Homo sapiens: one gene and its partners. The protein of the gene in region 5 purifies or fractionates together with the protein of the main gene of each other region. This does not show direct contact. Each region holds a gene or a part of one and is shown on either strand. Other genes may lie near its edges. The genes, in order: CORO2B, AGL, LDAF1, TMEM171 and TOM1L2.

Region 1 (3,469 bases), on a different chromosome or scaffold from region 5:
GGACCTACCAATTAGAGCTGCTATGAAGATCAAATGAGTCAAGTGTGTGGAATCCTGCCTGATAAACTTCAAGGCACCGTTCCAATGTAGAGCGTTGGTCTCACCCAGACCCCAACACGGGGCAGCATCTATTGAATAGCGGTAGAACAGTGGTTCTTAACCGGGAGGTGATTCTGACACCCCAGGGGACATTGGGCAATATCTGGGGACATTTTTGGTTGTCCCAATTGGATGAGGGTTGCTATGGCATCTGATTGGTGGAGCCAGGGATACTGCTAAATATCTTACAATGTACAGGGCAGCCCCCACAGCAAAGAATTATTCGCCCCAAATGTCAATAGTGCTGAGATAAATGAAGGTGTGAAATTATATCTGTAGGTACAGACGTGGGTTGTCATTCCAGAAAGGCAAAGGAGCTGTGGGTGGGGAGCTGACCATCAAGGTACCATGGTGACCAAGAACAGGAACCACTGGGGTTAAATGAGATGGCTATGCCCAGGTTTGATAAGTTGAAAACATTTTATTTCAATTCTATCCTTGGGAGGCAGCATAAATAATCACAGAAGACCACAAAGGTCAATGGGGAAGGAAAAAAAAAAGCTCCAGAAATGTGGGAGGAGGAGATGAGTGCTGACACTGTCTAGCTGTGGGGTACGGGGTGAGGAGGCCCTACTGTAGCTGGCTGGGAGGATGGAGGTTCATAAAGGAAAGGCCCAGCTCACCTGGAGGGGCTTGGGTAGCCCTGGCCTCTGTGGATGGGATTTTCCGTAGGGCGGCCATGGGAAAAGCAGGTATGGAGTATAATGCATCTAGTAGATCCTAGCTAATGAAAGAAAAGAGTGGACACCCATTTCTTGATTTCCAGATCTCACCCCAAACTGTGACTCTTCTGAGAACAGTGTTTATAAACTCTTTGTGCGTAGTGGGAAATGAAAGGAGGAAAAAAGAAGGAATAAAAGAAAATGTGTACAAGATCAAATGAAATGTGGCATCTCAGAGTTGCGTGACCTTGGGCCACTTCTCTCGGTTTCCTCATCTGCAGAAGGGAGTAGACGTGAGGCTCCATGAGATCCTATGTGTCAAAGGACTGCAGAAACTTTAAAGTGCTATACGGATGCGAGTGGCTGTGGTCATTCTACGTGCATAAGGCTGAAAGTGGCTGAGATAGCGGTGCTGAGACACACGCAGAGCATCCCTAGAAGCCATCAGACCCTGGTCTGCCTTCCCCAGGGCCAAGCTCCACCCTTCTCAGCCTCAGCTTCCAGGAGGACGAGGCCTCATCTCAGATGGAGTCCCCTGGGGAGGGTGGTGGTGACAGCTGAGGGTGGGGACCTGAAGGATCTAGGGGCACAGAGCGTGAGGGGCCTCAACTGGGCAGTGTGGCACATCGGCACTACTGGTGCTGGGTAGACGGTAGCAGTGGCTTCCAGTTCTCATTCTCCATAGAGACTTGGGCACTGGTGAAGCCCACAAAGGGATTGGCATCTTGATGCAGCGGGAAAGGCCCTGGCCTTGGGGTCTGAACACCCAGGGTCTTGGTCGTGGGCCCATTGTTGACCTGCTGGGTGACTTTATAAGTCATTTCCCCATTGCAACCCTCAGTTCTGTCATTTGTCAAAGGGGGACACTAATCCCTACCCTGCCTGGCTCACAAATTGAATGGGAAAAGGGTGTGCAAGAGCTTTGTAGAGAATCATGGGGAAGGCAAGGGGTCATTATGGCCTTGGAGAGCAATCCTCTGAATTCCCTGAAGACAAGAGGGTGGGAAGGGAAGAGACAGAAAGGAGCCGGGCCGCTCGCTGTCCTCGTCGGGTGAGGCAGGCTTCCGGGGCTGCTGAGGGAAGAGGGGGTGGGACGAAAGAGGGATCACTGCAGCCTGCAGTCCAGCACTTACACTGTGGTACCTTCAGTGATGCTGAGAGCTCCAGGCGGGAGTGCTGAGATGTCCTGGCAGCCCCCTTCACAGGGGAAAAGTCCAAGTTCTAAGTCTAGCTGGGATCCCGCTTCCCCTCTTGCTTCCTGGTCCACTGAGATGGAGCCCCTGCCAACCCCAGGGAGTCTGTAGTCTTCACCCAGCTGAGGGGAAGCCTGGCTCCTGGGGTGGCAGGGAAAGGGGCTGCCGGCAGGGGGTCTCCAGAAGCTGGGGACTTTTATTAGCATGAGGTCAGGAGGTTAGAGGTTGGCTTCCAGTTCTCGAGGTGGTAGGCGGGGGTCCTCAGGCTGGCCCCCACTCCTGTCCTGGCTCTGTCTCTGGGGTCACTGGTAAGGGAGAAGTTAAGGGATGAGTAGAAACGACGGAGAGATCGGCTTAGAAAACAGCCCAGCTGGGGAGCTAACAGTTCTTGGGGCTGTTGCGCAAGTTTTTCAGTTCCAGCTGGAGCTGCCGAATGCGGATGTCCTTCTGGGCCAGCTCCTCTTTCAACCGTCGAATCTCATCCTGCTGCCGGAAGAACATTCGAAGGAGCTGGGGTGGAGGAAGAGAGGGGGCCAAGGAGGGCCCAGGAGAGAGCAGGTGAGACAAGGATTTCCCAGGTGAGTCTCCAGCTGCCTGCCGCCCGTGCCCTCACATTCCCCCAGGCCTCCCACTGCTTGATACATTTATTCTCCCCAGGTGCATTTATTGCACCTCTCCCATCTCTAGCTCAGCCCATGGCTCTTACTTTCCCTTGTGAGGTAGGAAACAAAACCTGCGTCATTAATTGATTCAGGATCACTGAAAAAGGAGTGACCAAACAGTCCAGTTTTCCAAATATCCCAAGCTTGTCCCTTTTTGGGTCCTAACTTAATGCTTTTCTTTACCATTGTATTAATAGATGTATTATTACATCTATAATAATACATAATAATAGATGTATAATAATACATAATAGATGTATTATTACATGTATTACATATATTATTACATTATTATTGCTAATTTATGTATTTATTTATTTTTGAGACAAAGTCTCGCTTTGTCGCCCAGGCTGTAGTGCGGTGGCATGATTTCGGCTCACTGCAACCTCTGTCTCCTGGGTTCAAACAATTCTCCTGCCTCAGCCTCCCGAGTAGCTGGGATTACAGGCATGTGCCACCATGCCTGGATAATTTTTGTATTTTTAGTAGAGACTGGGTTTCACCATGTTGGCCAGGCTGGTCTCGAACTCCTGACCTCAAGAGATCCACCCACCTCAGCCTCCCAAAGTGCTGGGATTACAGGTGTAAGCTACCATGCCCGGCTTGTGCTGATAATTTAGAACTTTCTAAAATGCTTTGTATCCTTCTCTTCTTAAGGAGGCTCAGGATACAGAATGGAATCTAGCTTTTTCCCTACTGATGAGGAACTATGACAAGAATACCAAAGTTTGCACTGGTCAGGGATTCATGTACAGCTATCCTGGCAGATCTTCACCCCAATGACTCTCTAGCTTAACCCGCCTCCATTTCTCCTGTAAAGCATATTGACAGATGTCCACAAAACGCCGAGCCC
Region 2 (3,812 bases), on a different chromosome or scaffold from region 5:
TTAACTGTCAGCGATTACTTCTTGCTTTGATTAAATATGCTGGTTTTCTGTTACCTTTCCTACCTCCCTGAATATCAAAGTTAGGGTACAGCAACAAAACTACATAAACCTTTGATAAACTAATGGTTCTCTCAAGGACAGTCATTCCTTTTACCCGCACAGTTTAGAGAAGGGTATATATTGAACAAGGAAGGAACTGAAGAAGAAAGGGAGATTTGGAAACCAATGTCCAATGTATTTATAGATAGTGGTCAGATTACTGTCACAACTGTCCTTAAATTTGTAGGATTTAATCTATTTTAGTTTTGGAAACCAGAAAACTAAGCTAGTTAAAACTATTTCTAAAGCAAGGTCAGCTTTGAAGAAGAGCAGGCAGATAATCTTAAAGTAAATTACACGAGCTTTCAAGCATGGGTATTTGACATCTGAAGCATTTATATATTTTTGCTGCCCAGAAGTTTTAGTTTGCTGGTTTTCTTCTTTAATTTCTTAGTCATAGTTAAGGTTTTGGGTATGTAACCTGTAAACTAACTAAAAAAATGCTACTTTGAAAGTAGCATTATTTTAAAATACCATTATTTTATTAGGTATAAATGAGCCACTGAATATTATATAGCAATGAAAGAATTCTTGCCACTACTTTCTTCCAACTGAATGCATAATGATTTAACTGTTTTCTTAAGAAAACAGTAAAAAACAGTAAAAAATTCTATCTAGGAAATAAGTTCTATGAAAAAATGTTAACTCATGTAAATGTTAAAAACCTTTTTCCTTTTGTGACTTTAAGATTTTTAAGGCATCTTAAAATAAGTTATCATGAAAAACTTCCAGTGATTTTATTGAATTTAAGATATCTACTGAATTCATATCCATATTTTTGTTAAGATTCTTCTCAATGTTAAACTTGTCAATGTAGGTTTTGAGTTAATAGAAAACCAGTATCTACTATGATCTAGCAATAGATTTTTGAACATGACTAAAGATAGTTGAGTTTTAGAAAACTAATATAACATTCTTTTTTCTTTAAAGTTCTAGAAATATGACCGACAATTTCCATTTTGAAAATGTAAGCTATCTTATAATACTCAATAGAACTCAATACTAATTTTACAAAACTGTTTTTAGGAAATAAATTTCCTAATGCTTTGCATGTTTCCTCACATAAGTAAATCATATAAAATATACTGTTGGCATTCATTACACAAAAATTAATATATCAGTGAAAAAATGAAAGCATAGTTTGAACATCTGTGCTCCATTTAGGAACATATATTGTAGATGGAAACTTCTATCATTCATCATTTATTAAATATTTATTAAATGCAGTGAGCACTGTATTAAGAATACTATAGTACGTGGTGTTAATATTAATGAACCACAGCGTATTCAGTATGTATTGTTACTGAAGATTATATATACCACAATTAAAAGCTATCTTTTCATTTCTTTCATTATTTTCATATTTTATTTTCATTTCTGTACAAATAGAAGATGACATGATTTTTCTTTTCCAAACTATGGATTTCTAGGCATTTGAATAATTCTTACTGAACTCAAACACATTTCATTGGTAATGATATTTCTTTCTGATTCAAATTGAAATCTACCTCTGTACATTAAAAAAAATCAATGCTTTTACAATCTTACCTAATTGAGCATCAATATTATAATAAATGAGATTTTTAAAACAACTTGAGCCTGTGCATATAAGGCATTTACATATGATGACCTTGCATCCTATAATACAAGTAATTGCATACTTAATATCTGTAATAAACTATAAATCATAAAGTGTCTCAAGAATAGTAGCAATTGACCAGGCTTGTGTTTCACAGCTGAAAGGACAGTACTGGGCATTCTCATTGGTCAGTTCTGGAAGTCCTTTCCAAGGGGATCTGAATGAAAGAAAAGACATTTTACAAAGACATAATTTAATTCATATTAACAAAATAGGCAAGACCTGGTGATTTTTGCCTTCTAGTGTAGAAAATAATCATATGTAGTCATTTGCTACAAAATAAAACAATATCCTAAAGACATACAAATGAATTTAGACTGAAATTATTCTTTGACATTCCATCTTTGGAATTTGAGACTTTTAAATACAAGGAATCCCTTTATGTATTAAAAACATAGAAGAAACTACCATTACAAGCTACATATAAACATAGAGATAAATACTCTCTCAGGCATAATTTTGTTTATGAGACTCAAATTGTAATTATGCAGATGTGTTATGTGTGATCTTGATAAAACTGTAAAAGTAAAAGTAATGAAGAAACACTAAGAACTATGATTAGGCGGAAAAATGGCATTCCAGAATACTTTCTACTTAAAGAAAAAAATGCCAATTAATTTCTCTTTCTACTGAATAATAAACTTGGTATTTATTATGCATTTATGTTCTAATACTGCTTTTATGTATATTATCTCATTTAATGTTCACAGTAACCCTGTAAGGAAGGTACCATAAGTATTCCTATCTATAGAGAGGTAAGAGAGATTTATAGAGGTTAAATAACTTGTTCCAGCCCTCCTTATCAGAACACAGTGATGTTAGCACATCAAATTTATTGTTAATTTCAATGTAATCCCTTAAAAATGAAAACAAATTCAAAAAGTACAGACATCTGTAATGTTTCATTTTTAAGTTGGGTTGTGGGAACATATTTGTTTCATTACTATGGTTTGTATCTCAGGGCTATATTACATACACGCTTCAGTGGGCATCAAATACTTCATAGTAAAAATGGGAAAAAATAATCCCATTAGGTAAAACAGGGTATTTTGGATAATAACTAATATCAGCTAGGTACCATATTTAAAAAACTGTCATAGAAACATGGAAAATATAGAAAATGTATGTTTCCAAGTATTCAAGCTACATCAGAGTAAAATGCCAAATGACTGAAGTTGGATACCTGGGCATCTGTAATGTGTTGAATTACATCTCCACAGAATTTGTATGTTGAAGTCCTAGCCCCGAGTACCTCAGAATGTGAACCTGTTTGGAAATCGGGTCACTGCAGATGTAATTAGTTAAGATAATGCCACATGAAGATTGGAGTTTTGCTGCCACAAGCCACAGGATTATCAGCAGCTAGGAGACAGGGCTGGAAGAGACCTTTCCCTAATGCCTTCAGAGGGAGCATGGCTCTGCCCATGCCTTGATTTTTCAGATTTCTGGCCTCCAGAACTGTGAGACAATATTCTGCTGTTTAACAATTTCTATTATTTAAGTCACTCAGTTTGTAGTGCTCTGTTACTGCAGCTCTAGCAAACTAACAGATACCAAAATTAAAAAACAAAATGAGGTTACAAAACCATGAATATGCTGCCCATAATTACACTTGGACACTAGGACATGGAATGTATCCATACAAATATAAGGAAGTCCCCTTTCCCTTGCTTTCCTGAAAAATTCATCCTGAAGTCATTAGGTGGGACAGAGCAAGGTAGGTGACCAGAAATGGAGGGGAAAGGGTAATAGGTAGTATGGAGCAGGATGTTAGAGTCCAAGAGGTATGAAGAGGGAGTCCACCAAGGGTGAGAGTGGTCCAGAGTGGGTAGTTAGAATCCAAGTGGTGCCAGGAGGGCTCCACACATAGAGGTGGCTTACTGTGGGGTAGCAGGCCCAAGCTGGGTGAGCAGACTCTATGTGGTGGTGATGGCCCAATGTGGGAAGTAGGTTATTCATTGTTGGAAAAGGGAATTACAAATATAGAAAGGGAGAAAAATAGAATTAAACACTGAGAAATAGCTTGGAACTGGTGTAAACTCAGGTTTTCAACACACATAGACAGGATACATTG
Region 3 (3,034 bases), on a different chromosome or scaffold from region 5:
TACCCCATATCATAATCTTCCAAACCAGCCTGAGCATAACTAGCTTCCTTACATCTTTACTAAGAAAAGGAAAGGCTTCTTTCTTAGTTTTTTGTTATCAGGGAGGAATGGTTTAGGTGGCAAATAATGAAAAAAACCAAAGTAGATACTAGTTTAAACACACAGGGAACTTTTTTTTATTGCTTAATGAAAAACTGGAGACAGCCCAGGGCTGGTGCAGCCAGTGTGGTATCAACATACCAGGCACCTTTTGCCTTCCTGTGTTGCTATCCTTAGCCCATTGGTTTCCTACCTTATGGCCACAAGATAGCTGCTGCAGCTCCAGATCTACCAGCTACCTTCAAGGCAGCAGAAAAGGAGAAAAAAATGGAGTCTGACCCTTTTAAAAATGTGAATAAAATATTTCCCAGGACCTCTCACCACTATACTTCAAAAGACTTCATTGACTAGAACTTTGTCAGATGGCCGCTGGTTGCTGTTCTCCTGATTGTAGGTCTCACGAGATCTGATGGTTTTATAAAGGGCATTTCCCCTGCACATGCTCTCTTGCCTGCCGCCATGTAAGAAGTGCCTCTGATCTTCCTTTGCCTTCCACCATGATTGTGAGGCCTCCCCAGCCATGTGGAATTGTGAGTCCATGAAACCTCTTTTTCTTTATAAATTACCCAGTCTCAGGTCTTTATTAGCAACATAAGAACGGACTAATACAATCCTCCCCCGAACTCCTTTCCATGGAAGGTGTCAAGAAACTAATTGAAATCAGAAGATATGGTCTGAATCCCCGCCCTGCCATGTTTTCAGCTGTGTGGTCTTGAACGGGCTGCTTGACTTCTCTGATTTCAGTTTTTGTCCATTGGTAAAATAGACAAAATGGCTACTCTTAATCTACCATTCTCACTGGGTTGTTGTGAGGACACAGATAATTAAGAAAAACATAATAAATATCCAAATTAGAAAATGGAAAAGGGGCCGTAACCCTACTCCTAACCTGGTCATTTTAACCTCCTGTGCCCTCAGTTTCTTCATCTGTATAATGGACATAGGCCTGGTGTGGTTGCAAGAAGCAGCTAAAAATCAGGAAAAAGAACATCATGTATTCAGCTATGCACACTTCCAACGTTGCTCTTTACTGAGGCCCTAGAGCTAACGATCTCTTCTTGTTATCCGACAGGCCACTGACACAGCAAAACACCAGTTGTGACTTTCTGCCAGCCATGAAGTCTGCAGAATTCGAGGGGCTTTACCAGGAATGAGTGACTGCTCAGAGGCCGGGCTTCTTTTCAAGTACTGCTGGATCATACTCACCCCTTGGGATTATGGCTTAGAAGAAGGGGGCTGGGTAGGCAAGCACTCCTTGGCTGTGTCCTCTCGCTTTTTCACTTACTTGTAGGATCCCGCAGCAGCCAATTTAGGGATTGTGTTGTTCTTGTGTTGGTTCCCATGTAAAGAAGCAGCAGAGAAATGCGATGGTTCAACAGCTCGCCCTGCCCCAAGTATGCAGACTTGACCTTGGCGGGGTCCTGGGCTTCTAGAGTCTAGCCCGTTGACCCCAAAGCCTCAGGGCTTATGTCCAACGGTCCCATTGGGAGCAACAGTGATTGTTTATAGTTTTTTGTTTTCAGAAATGAGGGCAGCTGTTAATTTTTTCACTCATGTGAAACAAAATGAAAAAAAAAATCCAAAACAGAACAAGCCCTTCTGTGGTATTTGCTTTTTATCAGAAAGAACAGCAACATTTGGCCTCTCCAAGTTGGAAAATAGAGTCCAAATGTAACTTTGTGGCCAAGAGTATTTTCAAAAAAGTCTAAAGGTGTAGTTTCCACTGTAACTGTTGAGTACTGTTAAGTACTGTTAATCTTTTACATATTTGCACTTGGTACTGTTGTATTGTTCTAAAGAGCTTGTCCTTTAAGTAATTTCTTTCTTTTTTTTTTTTTTTTTTTTTTGTGACGGAGTTTCCCTCTTGTTGCCCAGGCTGGAGTGCAATGGTGCAGTCTCGGCTCACTGCAACCTCCAACTCCCAGGTTCAAGTGAGTCTCGTGCCTCAGCCTCCCAAGTAGCTGGGATTACAGGCACCCGCCACCGTGCCCGGCTAGTTTTTTTTTGTATTTTTTTTAGTACAGATGGGGTTTCACCATGTTGGTCAGGCTAGTCTCAAACTCCTGACCTCAGGTGCTCCACCTGCCTTGGCCTCCCAAAGTGCTGGGATTACAGGCGTGAGCCACTGTGCCCAGCCTAAGCCATTTCTTAAAATAAAAATGCTAAAGGACTAGTAAGTAAAAATAAAACTTCCTATGGGATTTCCCAGTGGAATTACTGAGTGGTTTATTTGCGTGGCATTTCATTAAATATTTATTTGGGTGGGCTTTTTTTCTTTACTCTTTTTCCCTTCTGCTCCATACATCAGACCTGCCTATTCCTCTGTCGATTTCATGACTGGTGCTGGGTAATAGGGATTTTTTTAGTTGCTCGCAATAGACACCCAATTCCACATTACTTTAAAAAGAGGGGTGGTAGGGAGAAGGATTAGTTTCACTCAACCAAAAAGCCAAGGGGTAGATCTTGAGGTGCTGCTGATTCCAGGGGCTCAGGTGGTGTCATTAAGCATCTCTCACCCCTCATCTCTCAGTATAGCTTTCCTCAGTGTGAGCTGCTTTTGCAGGCAGGCCCGCCACCCCTTTCGGAGGTCCCAGGAGCTCCATCCTGGGCAAGAAAACTGCTTTTTTCCAACAGTATATACAAATATTCTGGGTTTGGCTCTGATTGGATAGACTTGGGTCATGTGAGCGACCCCAGACCAATCATGGTGGCTAGGAGGATGGGATATGCAGATGGGACAGGGCTGGGATGGTGGCCATTCAAGAAACAGGGGAGGCGATAGATCAGCCCACTATTAATATAACTATTAATATTAACAGTTACTGTTTATTGGATGTTTCCTTCATTCATACAACTGTCTGATATTATCTCTCTATGCTATCTACCCAGCTGGGTTCTGCAGCTTTAATAATGAAGAATGCAATGGTCTCCCTTC
Region 4 (3,812 bases), on a different chromosome or scaffold from region 5:
AGTGCTGACAATTATGGTATGAAAGCAGGTCTATATTTTGTAGCAAGTCTAAGACCAAGCCTTTTTGTGAATTGTTTGCTAACAAGCTCCTTTCCCTCCTCTGGGGTGTCTACTGCTGAAAAAGCTTTTCTCGTTTTCAGCCTACAACTTTAATTCACAAGTTAGCTGTTGGCTAAAGTGCCTTGTTCCTCAAATGTAGTTTCAGCCCCTGAGCAAATGACAGTAAGCCATATTACAGCCCCTAACTGTTATTTACCAAAATTTCACCCATACAGATGAAGGTTGAACCCAAAGAAGTTTGGTTTTTGCATTTCTGTGGCTACTGTTCACTCCAGAATACATCCTCATGTTTTGAGGAGAAACTAGGGACCAGATGCAAACTCTAATTTGTATTCCGATTCCAATATAAAATGCACCACACAAGTGGACCAGAACAGTGTAGAGCTCTGGCAGCACCACTGCTGGGGGCCTGGTGAAAGCCTCTGAGAAGCTGGCAATAGCAATAACAGTTCAGAAAAAATGAAGAAGATGGGGCTTTACTTCCCTGTAGTGGTTCACACTCCTAGCATGTCTGATGCTTGCTTAGGGTGGCATAGGATTCTTTAAAGTGATGGGGGTTCCAACCTGAACAAGCTAGGCGACCTCCTTGACCTCAGCCGCCACAGCTGTAAACTGCAGGCCAGGCAGTTCTTGCATCACAGGACAGATAGAAGGAAGGACTAGATGGACTGATTTGCATCTGGCAGTGAACACAGTGCGGAGCACAGAGCCAACTCTCTCAGCTCAACACCAGCCGAGGGCACTGATTTGCATGATGAAGAAACACCACAGAGGCAATTGGCCACTGGCTCCACTCTCTACCCTTCATGAGCCACAGCAGCCTCAATCATTTCCCAGAGGGAATTTAGCCCTTCAGAAAATGCATTAATTCCATCTCCCCTTCCTTCTCCAAGGAGAAGGCAATGAGAGTTTAAAATACGTTTTGCTAATCTAAAGGTGAGAAAGCATAATAGCGGTCCTGAGATTCTCATTTACTTTTTTAGAAGGTCTTGGTAGGTTAGAGGAATTGGGGTTGTGTTCACTTCCATTACACACTGTAGAATAAAGAACCTGTGAAGTAACCCTTGAGGGCAGGCCAATCACCTCTCAAAAACACACAAGGATATGCTCCAGTAACCCTGTTACCTCCAAGGGTCTCCAGCCCTTTGGCCCAGCAGCTCCGCCTGCCCACACCCTGCAACCTGCTCTCCCTGGAAAGAGGCCTCTCCTCTGCGAGTTCCCTTTCATGCGTCTTTCAGAACTTGATGTCCTCTGTGAGCAGACAACATATACACCCCTCCAAGGAGAGCTGTCTCATATACCTGCTGTGTATCCAGGATAGCACTGAGTGTACCCACAACAAGGAGAGCATGCTTCTTGGATTCTAAAAATGTAAACCCTATTCCACAATATCAAAGGAGAGGAATTAGGATGCAAGATTTTCATAGGTTTGATGGGGACTTAAAGAGTTAAGTAGAAAAGATTTTAAACCATGCAGTGCCAACTTCAGGACAAGGACACCAGGAGCAGCACCACAGCTCTGTCCACTCTGATTCCAGCTACCAGGTGGAAGGCTGGGCCCCAAAACTCCCCTCGAACCGTTCCCAACTAGATGAAAGCATAGCAGCGTTGGATGAACATATTTACTTGTACCCCACGGTGTTCCTCAAGAACACTAAGAACATCTATCAAATTAAAGGGAGCCCCTTTTTTCATGTAATAACTTCCAGGAACACTTGGTGAAGGATAAAATGGAATCACACCCACGTGCCCTGGGCAGGGTGCTATGCAAGGGCTATTCTGTGGGTGTGCCCAGACACTTGGGTTGGAACCTTGCTCTACCACTTGCTAGGGTGTGACCTTAGGCAAGTCACTTGATATCTACATGCCTCATCTTCTTCCTGTGTAACATGGAGGTACTAACGTTATCTGCCCCCTTGGATTGCTGTAGGTGTGAATGAATTTCACACAGGGGACCTTTAAGAGCACATGATAAAGCACTTAAATGGGTGTTTGGCACAAAAATAGACCCTATATAAGTGTTAGCTATTGTGAATATATAACTAATATTTGTGTTGTCACCATAAATATATTAATGCATAAATATATTAATAAATAAGCTGGGAGCATCTACCCTGGCTCTACACAAGGAATGGCTGCAGATCCATCTGCCCCTCCTCTCCAAGGCTGGTGCCATGCAAGTCCAGCAACCCAGTTCCTCCCCTCCAGGCTGCAGTCAGTGAATTCCACTGCTTCCAGTAGACAGCCCCAAACAGGAGATGCATCTCACTTGTCACATTCCCTCTCTGTCCTCTCCATGGTTTCTGTTCTGAAGATCTCTTTTCCTAGCCTTTTAAATGTCAGTGGTTTCACAACTTTACTCTTTCAAAAGTAGGAGACTGAAAAAAAGTGATCTGCCAATGAACAGCGATGGGGTTTTTCCTTGGTTGTGTGAAGCTGAGGCCAACGCTACTGCTATTGTTCTGAGGGGGCAGGCTCTGGGAAATGGCACTCCATCTCTTCTGTAGAACCCGGGGGACCCAAAAGGAACTTGTAGGCATTCCACGGGAGAAAGGTGCTGTCATATTCCATCTTGGTTCATCCCGCTGCTTCCAAGCTTTGCCTCAGCCCTGCAGCCACGGATGATGTCACAAAAAAAGAAGGACAACACAGAGACAGTGCAGAGGCCCCTCAAAACACCTGGAGACTGCTGGACTCAGACAGATCCAGAATCCTAGAATGTTAGTGCTGCAGGAATCTTAGAGAGGCACTGCTCATTTTATAGAGACATAAACCAAGGCAGGAGAGGTTAAGGACTTACAAGGACAGCCAGCTAGTGACAGCCTGGGAGGAGAAACCAAGTGTCCCACAACTAAAATGCTATGTGGTTTTGGTGTGAGAATAACAGGGGTAACAGGGTCACTTAGTGAGTCCCTAAGGTGGCAGAAGGCTCCAAGGCTGTCCTCATGGTTCTTCTCACTTTCCTCTTAATTTGCTCTGTGACCTCAGTCAAGGTCACTACTTAATATCCCAATGCTTTGCAAAGTAGGAAAGAGTTGCTGGGGGGGAAAAGATGTATACAAGGTTCCTACGGGGCTTCCCACAGCAGCACCATTGTGTATGTACACATGATGGGGGTGTGTGCGTGTGCACACACATGTGTGAGAGATGGAAGAATTGAGAAAGAGAATCCAGACGAGAACCAAGAGCAGCTGGTGAAACCCTGCTGCAAAGCCACTGTGATAGAAGCAAGAACGCAAATAACAGCAACCCACCTACAGTGACCTGGACAGGCTCCATAATCTGGATCTGTCCCTCTTCTCTCTCAGAGGCATCCTGGCCAGCATTCAGCGTGTTTCTCTTCTTAACATGGGCAACCACGAAGAAACACAATCCCACAAGCACAATCAAGGGCCCCATGATCTGCAGAGAAAGGAACCCACACATCCGGGGCTCTGAGTCGCCAGTGTCTGTCTCGTTTAGCGGTTCCTGCGCCCAGTTGGAGCCACATCCAGGGACCCAAATGCCCAGGACGCTGATGAGCATGCCGCTTGTCAAGAACAGAAACCCAAAGATAAGGCACTGGGCAAACTGGCGGCTCTCTCCACAGATGAAGGCTCGGTCGGGGTCCATCTGCTGACCTCTCTGCAGCCCTGCACGGAGCTGAAGTTGCGCCCGGGAGCGGGCCAGGATCACAGCCCCAAGCCCAACCACGGCACATGCAGGCCCCGCCACCTTGAGCACCATGGGGCAGTCTGGGAGGGGCTTATATT
Region 5 (3,812 bases):
CCAGGTAGCCAATAGGTCATTTCAGTTCAGTTCAGGTAAATGATTAATGGACAGAATTAGGTTCTAATGTATATTCCGTACTGTTGTGACAAAGTGTCAAAGTGACTTTCTTGATATTTAGTGTTGTTAGTATTCTTTTAAAAGAATGTGCGGGGGTGGGGGATTGGTGGGAGGGAGGGGGAATACAGAAATAAAATAACAACTACAAAGCTAATGATTAAAAACAGCAGCTGTAGGCTGGTTGTGGTGGCTCATGCCTGTAATCCCAGCACTTTGGGAGGCCAAGGTGGTGGATCACTTGAGGTCAGGAGTTGGAGGCCAGCCTGACCAATATGGTGAAACCCTGTCTCTACTAGTAATACAAAAATGAGCCGGGTGTGGTGGTGGGCGCCTGTAATCCCAGCTATTCAGGAGGCTGAGACAGGAGAATCGCTTGAACCTGGGAGGCAGAGGTTGCAGTGAGCCAAGATTGTGCCACCGCGCTCCAGCCTGGGCGACAGAGTGAGACTCTGTCTCCAAAAAAAAAAAAAAAAGGAGAGCTGGTCCCTCTCTGATCCCTGTCCTCAATGGATTTACGGTTTCAGGAGAGAAGACAGAGATGCATGAAACAATGAGTGGTGTAGATTGTAAGTGCTGAAGGAGTCAGAAACAATTCAGAAGAGGCTGGGGTGACAGGGACTGGCTTCTTTGAGTCTGAGGGCTGTTCATAAAGGATGGGTAGGAACTCTGCATGCAGAAAACAATATCATTGGGCCTAGGGACAGCTGAATGAGGCAGGGAGTGGGGCACAGGCACATCTGTGAGTACCAGTCTGAATGGAGCAGAGGTGGCTGTGGGGAGTGGTGGCAAGTAGGGTTTGGGCACAGGAGGAAGCCCTGCTCTGGATGGGTGGCATCAAAGACTACATTCTTTTTTTTTTTTTTTTTGAGATGGAGTCTCACTTCATCACCCAGGCTGGAGTGCAGTGGCACGATCTAAGCTCACTGCAACCTCCGCCCCACAAGTTCAAGCGATTCTCCTGTCTCAGCCTCCCAAGTAGCTGGGATTACTGGTGCCTGGCACCGTGCCGGGCTAATTTTTGTATTTTTAGTAGAGACAAGGTTTCACTACCTTGGCCAGGCTGGTCTTGAACTCCTGACCTCGTGATCCACCCTCCTTGGCCTCCCAAAGTGCTAGGATTATAGGAGTGAGCCATTGCGCCCGGCCCAAAGACTACGTTCTTTAACTGACTTCAACTTTTAGTCTCTTTGGACCTAATTTTCCCTGCTTATAAAATAATACTTCTCAACAGCTGCATGGGGCTTACACCTAAATAATTTTGTCTGTTCACTTCAGTAGGCAGTTATGAGTGCCTGTGGGGGGCCAGGCCTGTGCCAGGCTCTGGGGATACAAATATTAACAAGCTGCTCTTAGGGAGCCTTCGGTAGAGGTAACATGCTCACAAAAGGTGTCCTGGGTCTGTCTGAGCGGTTGGTGGAGTAATTCTTACTCTGTCTTATGCGTGGGCCTCATGTGAACATTCTAACCTGGTACGATTTAGTAGAACACTTAGCGTGTTCATCTCAAGTTAGCGGCTAAGACCACAGTCTGACATAGTTAACTGTGCATTTCTTGCATCCATCCCGCCCTTTATTCTGGAGGGCAGTTCCTGAGTAGAAAGCATGGTTTAGGGAGAGAGTAAGCTGGACAGGTGCGGTGGCTCACACCTGTAATCCAGCACTTTGGGAGGCCGTGGCGGGTGGATCACCTGAGGTTAGGAGTTCAAGACCAGCCTGGTTAATGTGGCAAAACCCCATCTCTACTAAAAATACAAAAATTAGCTGGGCATGGTGGCACGCGCGTATAATCCCAGCTACTCGGGAGGCTGAGGCGGAAGAATCCCTTGAACCTGGGAGGTGGAGGTTGCAGTGAGCCGAGATCGTGCCATTTGCACTCCAGCCTGAATGACAGAGCGAGACTGCATCTCCAAAAAAGAAAAAAAAGAGAGAGAAAGCCTAGCCATGGTGTGCGAGGCTAAGAAGTGTGGTGGAAGAAAGAGTACTTACTTGTATTTCTTAATTTTCTGTTCTGCAACAAGCTTCAAAATGTTAACTGTCTTAATCTCAGCCTTCCACAACTGCTTGGAGTTGGATGACATACATGGGGAGTTCCCCAAGTCAGGTCCATTGTGTCTGCAGCAGTTTGCAGTTTTCCTTGTGTTGGCTAGAAAAAGTTTTCAGAAAATCCTTTTCCAAGAGTAAAGTTTAGATTCAAAGATCAGTGAGTAGTTAGTTAATTCTGACCAGAATATTGGGGGTGGTGGGCATGTATTCTCTTCATTGTTCTGCTTTAATAAACAGGCAAGAAGCAGATATTCTGTTGCAGAGTTTGTTTGTAGACTGACTGGTGTTGGACATAAACTACTTCATAATATCCTGTGAATGGTAGACGTTTAACCTGGCTATTTGTACCAAGAATAGTTAGTTGTCCCTCAGATTGCTATGTGTATTAGGGTTCTCTAGAGGGACACAACTAATAGGGTAGATGTTTATATTAAGGGGAGTTTATTAAGGAGTACTGACTCACACAATCACAAGATGAGGTCCCACAGTAGGCCATCTGCAAGCTGAGAAGCAAGGAAGCCAGTCTGAGTCCCAAAGCTGAAGAACTTGGAGTCTGATGTTCAAGGGCAGGAATTTGCAAAGCCCTTTTGCTTCAGTCATTTTATTTAGTGTTCACAACCTTGTGAGATATACAGGAAGATAACTGGAAGGAACTTATAATTATTAAGTACCAACTATATGCAAACTCTGTACATAGAATCTCATTTAACCCTCACAACATTTAACTATTTGGGTGTTATCATCCCTGTATCACATAAGGAAATCGAGGCTCTGAGAAGTTAAGAGACTTGTGCAAGGTCAATGGCAGAGTGAAGCCTAGAATCTACTCCTGATCCAGTGCTCATTCTGTGCTGCCATTTATGTTACTTTTTGCACTCTGAGCTCATGATTCAGCCGCAAGGGAATCACCTGGAGGGCTTGTTAAAAGTGGATCCTACCCTCAGAGTTTCTGTTTCAGTAGGTTTGGGGTGGGAAGTAGCATTCTACATTTCTGTCAAGTTCTCTAGTGATGCTGATGCTACTGGTTCACTTCGAGAACTGTAGTTCTTGCTTTGAAGTTCTGTTTCTTTAATCTTTTCTTTATCTTTCTTCAAACATTAAATGTAGGTTTTCTTGTGGACAGGCTAAAAGAGTGATTATTTAGAATTTGTTCATTTATTTATTCAGTGGCCCTGTACTATCTGTATATAGCAAGCTGAGAATTTCCCAGTGTGTAGGTATCTAAATTAGATCAGATAGAAAGTAGTTGCAAGATTGGATAGATAAATGCAGTAAGGAAATGTAGGAGGGGAGGGGTGACCTCAGGTGGTAATAATAATAGCTAAAGGCTTTTGGGTTTTTTGTTTGTTTTTTTGTTTCTTTGTTTTCCAGATGGAGTCTTGCTCTGTTGCCCAGGGTGGAGTGCAGTGGCGCGATCTCAGCTCACTGCAACCTCCACCTCCTGGGTTTAAGGGATTCTCCTGTCTCAGCCTCCCAAGTAGCTGGGATTACAGGTGCCCACCATCATGCCCGGCTAATTTTTGTATTGTTAGTAGAGACAGGGTTTCACCATGTTGACCACGTTGGTCTCAAACTCCTGACCTCAGATGATCCACCCACCTTGGCCACCCAAAGTGCTGGGATTACAGGTGTGAGCCACCATGCCCGGCCCCGTTTTTGGGGTTTTAAAAAAAGTTTAATGTTGTATTCCTATGTGCCAGAGACTGAAGT

What was found.
Region 1: the proteins of TOM1L2 (region 5) and CORO2B purify together in Homo sapiens (co-immunoprecipitation; one large-scale study listed by IntAct). This does not show direct contact.
Region 2: the proteins of TOM1L2 (region 5) and AGL fractionate together in Homo sapiens (co-fractionation; one large-scale study listed by BioGRID). This does not show direct contact.
Region 3: the proteins of TOM1L2 (region 5) and LDAF1 purify together in Homo sapiens (co-immunoprecipitation; one large-scale study listed by IntAct). This does not show direct contact.
Region 4: the proteins of TOM1L2 (region 5) and TMEM171 purify together in Homo sapiens (co-immunoprecipitation; one large-scale study listed by IntAct). This does not show direct contact.

Annotation. Positions count from the first base shown.
Region 1 is NC_000015.10:68,724,838-68,728,306, reverse strand, and holds the end of CORO2B (coronin-2B), read right to left. Parts: intron 2,465-3,469; coding exon 2,333-2,464; 3' UTR 501-2,332; downstream 1-500. UniProt on the Homo sapiens protein: May play a role in the reorganization of neuronal actin structure.
Region 2 is NC_000001.11:99,919,617-99,923,428, reverse strand, and holds part of AGL (glycogen debranching enzyme), read right to left. Parts: intron 1,896-3,812; coding exon 1,778-1,895; 3' UTR 1-1,777. UniProt on the Homo sapiens protein: Multifunctional enzyme acting as 1,4-alpha-D-glucan:1,4-alpha-D-glucan 4-alpha-D-glycosyltransferase and amylo-1,6-glucosidase in glycogen degradation.
Region 3 is NC_000016.10:21,178,304-21,181,337, forward strand, and holds the end of LDAF1 (lipid droplet assembly factor 1), read left to right. Parts: exon of another isoform or gene 1-493; coding exon of another isoform or gene 494-509; exon of another isoform or gene 510-629; intron 630-1,171; coding exon 1,172-1,253; 3' UTR 1,254-2,313; downstream 2,314-3,034. UniProt on the Homo sapiens protein: Plays an important role in the formation of lipid droplets (LD) which are storage organelles at the center of lipid and energy homeostasis. In association with BSCL2/seipin, defines the sites of LD formation in the endoplasmic reticulum.
Region 4 is NC_000005.10:73,123,516-73,127,327, reverse strand, and holds part of TMEM171 (transmembrane protein 171), read right to left. Parts: coding exon 3,315-3,812; intron 1-3,314.
Region 5 is NC_000017.11:17,965,779-17,969,590, reverse strand, and holds part of TOM1L2 (TOM1-like protein 2), read left to right. Parts: intron 1-3,812. UniProt on the Homo sapiens protein: Acts as a MYO6/Myosin VI adapter protein that targets myosin VI to endocytic structures. May also play a role in recruiting clathrin to endosomes. May regulate growth factor-induced mitogenic signaling.